Homo sapiens: one gene and its partner. The protein of the gene in region 1 purifies or fractionates together with the protein of each later gene. This does not show direct contact. Each region holds a gene or a part of one and is shown on either strand. Other genes may lie near its edges.

What was found. Proteins that work in one complex are often made in the same cells at the same time.
Region 2: the proteins of BOD1L1 (region 1) and KIFBP fractionate together in Homo sapiens (co-fractionation; one large-scale study listed by BioGRID). This does not show direct contact.

Annotation. Positions count from the first base shown.
Region 1 is NC_000004.12:13,570,893-13,576,591, reverse strand, and holds part of BOD1L1 (biorientation of chromosomes in cell division protein 1-like 1), read left to right. Parts: intron 1-3,749; coding exon of another isoform or gene 3,750-3,890; intron 3,891-5,699. UniProt on the Homo sapiens protein: Component of the fork protection machinery required to protect stalled/damaged replication forks from uncontrolled DNA2-dependent resection.
Region 2 is NC_000010.11:68,995,303-68,998,802, forward strand, and holds part of KIFBP (KIF-binding protein), read left to right. Parts: intron 1-3,500. UniProt on the Homo sapiens protein: Activator of KIF1B plus-end-directed microtubule motor activity. Required for organization of axonal microtubules, and axonal outgrowth and maintenance during peripheral and central nervous system development.

The DNA.
Region 1 (5,699 bases):
CAATTCCTTACAAATATATTTTTTGAGCATCTGCCATCCTTCAGATGTCGTATTGAGCACCATTCATGAATATGGACATACATAAAACATCATCCCTGCTCTCAGCATACTTAATTCAACCCAGAAAGCAGGAGGAACCAGGCCCACGCACCGTCATCACATGCATCTCACCAGTGCTATGCAATAGGTTGATCATAGGAAAGTGCCCAAATTTGACCATTTTTGAGGTAATTTCATATATTTCCCAAAATGTGTTCTCTCAAACCCTATTGTAGCCAGAAACCTCTGAGAAAAAGAGTACCACGGTCAGATGAGTTTGGGAATGTCATTGAATTCTCTCTCCTTCCTCAGTTACATGTTCATTAAAATATTAAGGGTTTGGCAAACTCCAGGGCTGGGCGCGGTGACTCACGCCTGTAATCCCAGCACTTTGGGAGGCCAAGGCAGGCGAATCACGAGGTCCGGAGATCGAGACCATCCTGGTCAACATGGTGAAACCCCGTCTCTACTAAAATACAAAAATCAGCCAGGCATGGTGGTGAGTGCCTGTAATCCCAGCTACTCGGGAGGCTGAGGCAGGGGAATTGCTTAACCGTGGGAGGCGGAGGTTGCAGTGAGCTGAGATGGCTCCACTGCACTCCAGCCTGGTGTTAGAGCAAGACTCCATCTCAAAAAAAAAAAAAAAAAAAAAAAAAAGGGTTTGGCAAACTCCTAAAGGAAAGAAGCCTGTTGAACTTTGTTTAAACAAGCATTATTTGCTGATACCACTTTTCTGTTGTTGGCCTATATCATTATACCTGTTCACATCATCCAGTGTTCCTTTCCCCATGGCACATTTGAGAAATGGTACATAACTGTATTGTCTCATCCTAACCGTTAATCACTTTCCCAAACATGAATATTTTCCAGGCTGAGCACGGTAGCTCATGCTTGTAATCCCAACACTTTGGGAGACCAAGATGGGAGGATCACTTGAGCCCAGGAGTTTATGAGACCAGCCTGGGCAACACAGGGAGACCCCATCTCTACAAAAAAATTAGAAAATTAGCTGGGCATGGTGGCATGCACCTGTAGTCCCGGCTACTTGGGAGGCTGAGATGGGAGGATCGCTTGAGCCCAGGAGCTTGAGGCTGCAGTGAGCTGTGATCGCACCACTGCACTCTAGCCTGGGTGACAGTGAGACTCTGTCTCTGAAAAAATATATATTTTTTTAATTTTTAATTAATGTGATTTACAAGCTATTAATCTTGGTATCATCTTGTTTAATTTCATTATTCAAGATTGATCAAAAAGTTCAGGAAGATTTATTTCAAAAATAACACTAACAGCATAATATAATAGTATCTTGTGTTTACATAAAGAACTAAAATCGGGGCTGGGCACAGTGGCTCACACCTGTAATCCCAGCACTTTGGGAGGCTGAGGCCGGCGGATCACGAGGTCAGGAGTTCGAGACCAGCCTGGCCAATATGGTGAAACCCCATCTCTACTAAAAATATAAAAAATTAGCTGGGTGTGGTGGCACGTGCCAGTAATCCCAGCTACTTGGGAAGCTGAGGCAGGAGAATCGCTTGAACTCGGGAGGTGGAGGTTGCAGTGAGCCGAGATCACGCCATTGCACTCCAGCCTGGGTGACAGAGTGAGACTCCCCGTCTCAAAAAAAAAAAACAAAAAAAAACAAAAACTTAAAATCAATCTGTTTCTAATTCCTCCAGACTTAACACAGTATTAGCCATTTGTGCCATGGTTTGATTTCTCAAAGAATCAGATTTTAGAGCCAAAGGACTCTAGAAGCTCACACGGCTAAAGTTATAAGGTGGTCTCATATTTGTTTTTTTAGGTGGAGCAGCTCACATAAATAGAAAAGAAGTCACAGAATCCAAATTGCTGCTGCTAGGAGAGGGTGAGGGTGCTGGAGCCCAACACCCATGCATTTGGGTATAGCATCCATCCCACCAGAATTACTGCTTCCCTTTAAAACAGTTGTGGAAAGTAGGGCTCAACTCAGAGAAAGTTCCATAGGCCTTCTAGCCATCTTCGAGTGAGTGTCTAGAAATTGCTCTCAGATTTGCCTTTTATAAATTCTTTAAAAATAAATCTTATTTGATTTATATGGTTCTGTAATCACCTGGATTATCAAAGCTCTTCCTTCATGCACTTTATAATATAAACTTTTGATTTACAAATGAGTTGTTTTCTCTCTAGTTTAGATTCCTTGGCATTGGTTGATCAGTCCCAGGGCTCTGGTGTCTTCATAATTTTACAAATTGTCTGAGTTGGGTGGGCTCTCAGTGGTCATGTAGTACCAATAGCCAGTCAGTGCCTGAGTCACTGCACCTGCAGCTCCTCTGAAAGGGTCTTCCTGCTTTTGCATGGACCTCAGTGGCAGGGAAAGCCACATCCTCCTTAGCATTCTCTGACTTGTGTTCAGTAGAAGCCGGCCTCCCTGTGGCTTCTACTCTTGATTCTAGTTCGACTTTCAGAACCTTCTGTCTAATTTTGCCTTACATATTTGAGGGCAGCTTCCAGGTCTTCTCTGCTTGCTTATTGAGCCCCTTCATCATCCCTGTTTGTGCTCATCAGTTACCTTTATCCTCTTTTAGAAGCAAATGTGCAGCTGGGCGCAGTGGCTCATGCCTGTAATCCCAGCTACTCAGGAGGCTGAGGCAGGAAGATTGCTTGAGGCTGGGAGTTCGAGACCAGCCTAAGCAACATAGCAAGACCCTCTTAAAAGAAAAAATTAAATTAAATTAATAAAATATAAAAGAGGCCACGCACAGTGGCTCACGCCTGTAATCCCAGCACTTTGGGAGTCCAAGGCTGGTGGCTCACTTAAGGCCGGGTGTTCAAGACCAGCCTTGCCAATATGGTGAAACCTCATCTCTACTAAAAGTACAAAAAGTAGCCGAGCATTGTGGCAGACTCCTGTAATCCTAGCTACTTGGGCAGCTGAGGCAGGAGAATTGCTTGAACCCGGGAAGTGGAGGTTGCAGTGAGAAGAGATTGTACCACTGCACTCCAGCCTGGGTGACAGAGCGAGGCTCTTTCTCAAAAGAAAGAAAGAAAGAAAGATAGATAGATAGAGGCTCTTTCTCAAAAGAAAGAAAGAAAGAAAGAAAGATAGATAGATAGATAGATAGATAGATAGACAGACAGACAGACAGACAGACAGATAGATAGAAGCAAACTCTGTATACCAAGTGTGGTCTAATGAATCCAGAAGAGGACTGTTCTACCTTATTTTCTGGATATTGTTCTTCAGTGTGCATCCTCATTACTGAGCCTCAAATTGAAAAATACACCAGCTAAACAAGTTCCTTTTTCAGAGTTTTTACTGGAATCAGAATTCCTTATCTGATTCTTGTGCAGTTGACTACTTGGGCCTTAACACTTAGCCTTGTGAATTGTACTTTCGTTAATCTTGGCCCTTTATTCTACCCTGATGAGCTCTTTTGTAATCTTTATTTTGTCGGCCAGTATATTTTCTATTTTTCGCAGATACATCTTTTTTCTAAATCACAATAAAATATCATGCACAGTAAGAACAAAGATAGTGTCACACAAGCAGAGGTAGTTGTAGATGACATTAAGATCGACTTATCAGCAGTGGTCAGGAAAACCAACCATTTTTCTGATTTTAGTTCCTATTGTTCTGACTTGCCCACAAGGAGCCTCATACTTCCTACAGAGTTCCAGGGACTGGAGTATTCAGTGCTACCATTGCCCAGTGTTTCTATAATCTGTTTCAGAAAGCAACATAGCAAGCCATCTGCACGTGCAACATCCAAACTTGGCAGCCCAGACACAGTTTCTCCTAGAAATCGCCAAAAATTAGCAAAAGAGAAGTTACCTACCAGCGAAAAAGTTAGTAACTCTCCCCCATTAGGAAGGTAAGTCCCTGCTTACACTTCAAGCCATTTTTAACCCCCTAAGACTATTTTTGGTACAATAATGCTTTCTTCCTAATTTCCTTTAAGATTTTGTCTCACCAAATAACTGTTTTTGGGGATCATTGGTTTCCAAGAAGAACAGGAAGGGCTGCAGAAGGTGTCTGTGTGGCCTCACCAGTCTGGCCTTGCCGCAGTGGACTGCCACACAGGCTTGTCCTTGACACCTGTGAGCCTTATCTGCCTTCTCCCATCCACCAAGACCAAAGGCAAGGCAGTGTGGTAAAGCATTTAACAGCCCAGAATCATTTCTGTTTTAGCTAGAGCATTGGAGAGGTGATGAGGTGATAAAGCTTCCTCTTTCAGGCACGGCCCCTGCCAGCTTACACCTTTCACTGCAGCCTTACTGGTCTTACTGCTTCCCAGAGGTGGTCCTGAGCCTTCCTTTCTTGCCTTTGCTTGAGCCAGTGAGGAGTGTCCTCACCACCAGCACCCCTAGTAAGTCAGATCCTTTCCGTCCCGCTTCAGCCCATTTTCATCTCTTCTTGCTGCACTTCTGGTCAGTACTGGGCACTTGAGATGCCACATAGCATTGGTTTGGTATATTCCTTTTATTTACCCCTCTGAGCTCTAGGTTTCTTTCTTGAGATAGGAATTTGTCATACTTTCTATACATTATCATATTCAAAAATAAAAGACTCTTCACTGTACACAAAAACTGTTTTGACCTCTTACCACATTTTCATCTTCACAGCATACTTGTATGTATGTGCTGTTTTCCGCACATTCTAGAAACGAAAGCAAACTATAGTGCCAGGCAGTTTCACATACATGCTCTCATTTAACCCTCAGTGAGTGAATTGTAATAGTTACTCTTATTTTATATGTGAGGGAAAGAATCTCAGGAAGGTTTCCATGCATACTACTCAAAATTGAACATGCAGTCAAATCACTTGAGGCTGTTGGTAAAATGCAGATCCTGGGTCTGTAAGTCTAGGCTGGGGCCTGAGAGTTGGCATTTCCAACAAGCTCCTCAGTGACCAATGCCCCTCCTCACAGACCACATTCTGGGTGGACTAGAAGGGCCTGGATAAACTACGAAGCTCACATGGCTGGGGAGAAGCAGCCTGACTCAGAGCTTCTGTTGGCTGCCACTTGGCCCCCAGCACAATACTGCGCACGGCACCTTTACTGAAGAGGTGTTCATTGAGTGGCTGGTGGCTTTCCATGGAAACAGTTTGAAATGGATTATCAACAAACACATTTTCAGTCATTGTCAACACATGTCAAAACCACATCATCTGCAACAATTTTTGACTCAGTTTATTTACTTTTGCTGTCAAACAAGAAACGGAAGACGTGTCTTCATATCACTAAGAGTCCCATTTCTCCATCTCCTGCAATTTTGGTTTTCCAACTCTTTGATTCATTGACAGGACATTTACTGCCCGCTTGCCATGTGTTGGGCATTGCACTAGGCACTGGAGTTAGAAAAATGAATAAATCTCAGCAGCTGCCCTAGAGAATCATCGTGTCTAATGGGGGAGATATATGTGTATAAGACTTTCAAACTTTTTTGGCAACAACCCACTATAAGAATATTTTGCAATACAGCTGGTGCTCACATTCCTGCTGCTGTAACTGAAACAAAATTTCATGAGTCAAATTTAATAGATGTGATATGAGTGGTATTTTCTGTTGTGTCCTATTAACATGTTGTTTTAAAATATTGATTGTAACTTGCAGTTTGAAAAAACACAGCAGATGAATCACAATGGTAAATGCTGTGGTAAAGACCTAAAGTCTTCATAT
Region 2 (3,500 bases), on another chromosome or scaffold:
TGTAGAATTTTATATAAATGAAATCATATTGTATATACTCTTGTTTTGGTATACCTTTTTTCCACTCAACATCGTTATTTCATTCTGTATCTACTGAGCTGATCGTGTCTTTTCATTTTCAGTCTGTTAATAGGGTGGATTACATTGATTTTTGTAAATGTTAAACTAATCTTGCATTCCTGGGATAAACTCCATTTGGTCGTAGCGTATTCTTTTTATATATTGTTGAACTGAATTCACTAAATTTTTGTTTAAAATCTTTGCATCTGTGTTCATGAAGGATTTCAGTCTGTAGTTTTCTTGTTATATCTTTGTTTAATATGAGATGGGAAGTGTACTGTCCTTTTCTCTTTTCTGGAAGTGTTTGTGTAGTGTTGGTGTTAAACTTCATTACATGTTTGGCAGAATTTACCAGTAATACTTTTTTAGCTGTTTTTATTTTATATTTTACTTTTCTCCTTACCTAGTTTGATAGTGGCAAGGATATGATATGTGAAAGATGCAAGACCTTCCATTGTAGCTTTTCTACCCTTAGTAGGATTTATATTGTATTTAAAGAATAATTCACATAAAGGCTGGGCACGGTACCTCATGGCTGTAATCCCAGCACTTTGGGAGGCCAAGGCGGGTGGATCACTTGAGGTCAGGAGTTTGAGATCAGCCTGGCCAACATGATGAAACCCCATCTCTACTAAAAATACAAAAATTAGCCAGGTGTGGTGGCAGGTGCCTGTAATCCCAATTGCTCAGGAGGCTGAGGCACAAGAATCGCTAGAACCCGGGAGGCGGAGGTTGCAGTGAGCCAAGATCATGTCACAGCACTCCAGACTGGGCAACAGAGCAAGACTCTATCTCAAAAAAAAAAAATGGTAATAATAATTCAAATAAAATGTCAATAGTGATTATCTCTGTGGAGTCAAGCTTTAAAAAAAAAATCCAAAACACCAAACCTAATTTAATTTTAAAAATAAAGGTGGGCCGGGTGTGGTGGCTGACGCCTGTAATCCCAGCATTTTGGGAGGCTGAGGTGGGTGGATCACCTAAGGTCAGGAGTTCAAGACAAGCCTGGCCAACATGGCAAAACCCCGTCTCTACTAAAAATACAAAAATTAGCTGGGCGTGATGTTGGGCGCTTGCAATCCCAGCTACTCTGGAAGCTGAGGCAGGAGAATAGCTTGAACCTGGGAGGTAGAGGTTGCAGTGAGTTGAGATTGTGCCACTGCACTCCAGCCTGGGCGACAAGAGGGAAACTCTCAAAAAAATAAATAGGCTGGGCATGGTGGCTAACACCTGTAATCCCAGCACTTTGGGAGGCTGAGGTAGGTGGATTGCCTGAGGTCAGCAGTTCGAGACCAGCCTGGCCAACATGGTGAAACCCCGTCTCTATTAAAAATACAAAAATTAGCCGGGCATGGTGGCGCATGTCTGTAATCCCAGTTACCCAGGAGGCTGAGGCAGGAGAATCGCTTGAACCCAGGAGGTGGAGGTTGCAGTGAGCCAAGATCGTGCCACTGCACTCCAGCCTGGGCAACAGAGTGAGAGACTGTCTCAAAAAATAAAATAAAATAAAAAATATTTTGGCCAGGCGCAGTGGCTCATGCCTGTAATCCCAAGACTTTGGGAGGCTGAGACTTGAGTCCAGGAGTTTGAGACCAGCCTGGACAACATAGTGAGACTTTGTCTCTATTTGAAGAAAAATAAAATAAAAGTGATTTGATCATTCCACTGGAACATAGCACTTTGGTCTTCCGGCTTTACAAAATATATCCATTGTATATATATTTTTTTAAGTGACTTGATCAGTCCTCAGTATCCAGGACTATAGGTCATACTGATAATGTTTTGAGATTGGATAGTTCTCTCCTCTATGTTACTTATGAGGTCCTTTCCAGGACCTCATTAAACTACATAAGTAATAGAGGCTTGACATAATAGAGGACCTTATTAAACCTCATAAGTAATAGAGACTTGAAGGGTGATATGGTTTGGCTCTGTGTCCCCACCCAAATCTCATGTTGAATTGTGATCTTCAGTCTTGGAGGAGAAGCCTGGTGGGAGGTGACTGGATCATGGGGGTGGATTTCGTCTTGCTGTTCTCATGAGATCTGGTTGTTTGAAAGTGTATAGCACTTCCTTCTTTGCTCTCTCCCCTTCCTACTCCAGCCATGTAGAATGTTTGGGCTTCCCCTTCACCTTTTGCCGTGATTGTAAGTTTCCCGAGGCCTCCCCAGCCATACCTCCTGTACAGCCTGTGGAACTGTGACCCAATTAAACCTCTTTTCTTTATAAAGTATCTAGTCTCAGGTAGTTCTTTATAGCAATATGAGAATGAACTAATAGAAAGGGCTCTGCCTTCCTAATAACTTACTGATTGTAATTTCCTGATCTTAGACCTACAGGCCACCTTTTCCTTACTCTTTAGTTCAACTTATTTCTCCTTTGATGATAGACAGTGCTTGGGAAACTCCTTTGACCATGACACCAGTAAGCCCCACTGCAGCACACTGCAACTAACCTAGGTAGTCTAGAGACTCACCTAGTACCAGAAACTGGTTAGTCACACTCTATTTTTGGGACAGGGTTGTGTTTGGCCTGCTATATTCAGGGTAGACTGTGCCACAGAAAGCAACAATTCTTGGTATGTGACAAATCTGAAACCATGAAACCATGATTGTAAGTTTCCCGAGGCCTCCCCAGCCATACCTCCTGTACAGCCTGTGGAACTGTGAGCCAATTAAACTTCTTTTCTTTATAAAGTATCTAGTCTCAGGTAGTTCTTTATAGCAATATGAGAATGGACTAATACAAAGGGCTCTGCCTTCCTAATAACTTACTGATTGGTCATGTTACATGTTAGTCAGGCTGGTCTTGAACTCCTGACCCCGTGACCTGCCCGCTTCAGCCTCCCAAAGTGCTGGGATTACAGGCGTGAGCCATTGCACCCAGCCCAAAAGATTTTTAAAACAAAATGTGTGATATAGTAATATATATGCTTCTTTATTAACACATTATATAATGTGTCTAATATCTATGATGATTGTAAAGTAATGATGAGCATAAATGATATTTTGAGATATCTGCAAACTAGCATAATAGAAAGGTTTTTTTTTTTCATTTCTATTGTTCACAAAGTCCCAGGTCCTATAATACTGCTACAATTTATTTCCTGTGTTCATAATGAAAAGAAATGCTGTATTTTAATAGGAGATTGGTGAAAAGAAATTTGTATTTTTTTCCCTGTCCAAATTCATGGACTCTGAATTCTCTTTATGGATGCCTTGGGGATCCTTAGACTTGAGGTTAAGAATTTCTGCATTAAAAACTTCCTTCCCTAGTGGCAAAAGATGGTAGAAGGCCAGCCTCAGAAGTATCCTTGTGCCTGAAGGACTGACTATTCCAAGGGAAGTGAGGTAGACTAACCCCACTACATACATACATACATACATACATATATGTATATATATATATATTTTTTTTTTTTTTTTTTTTTTGAGACAGAG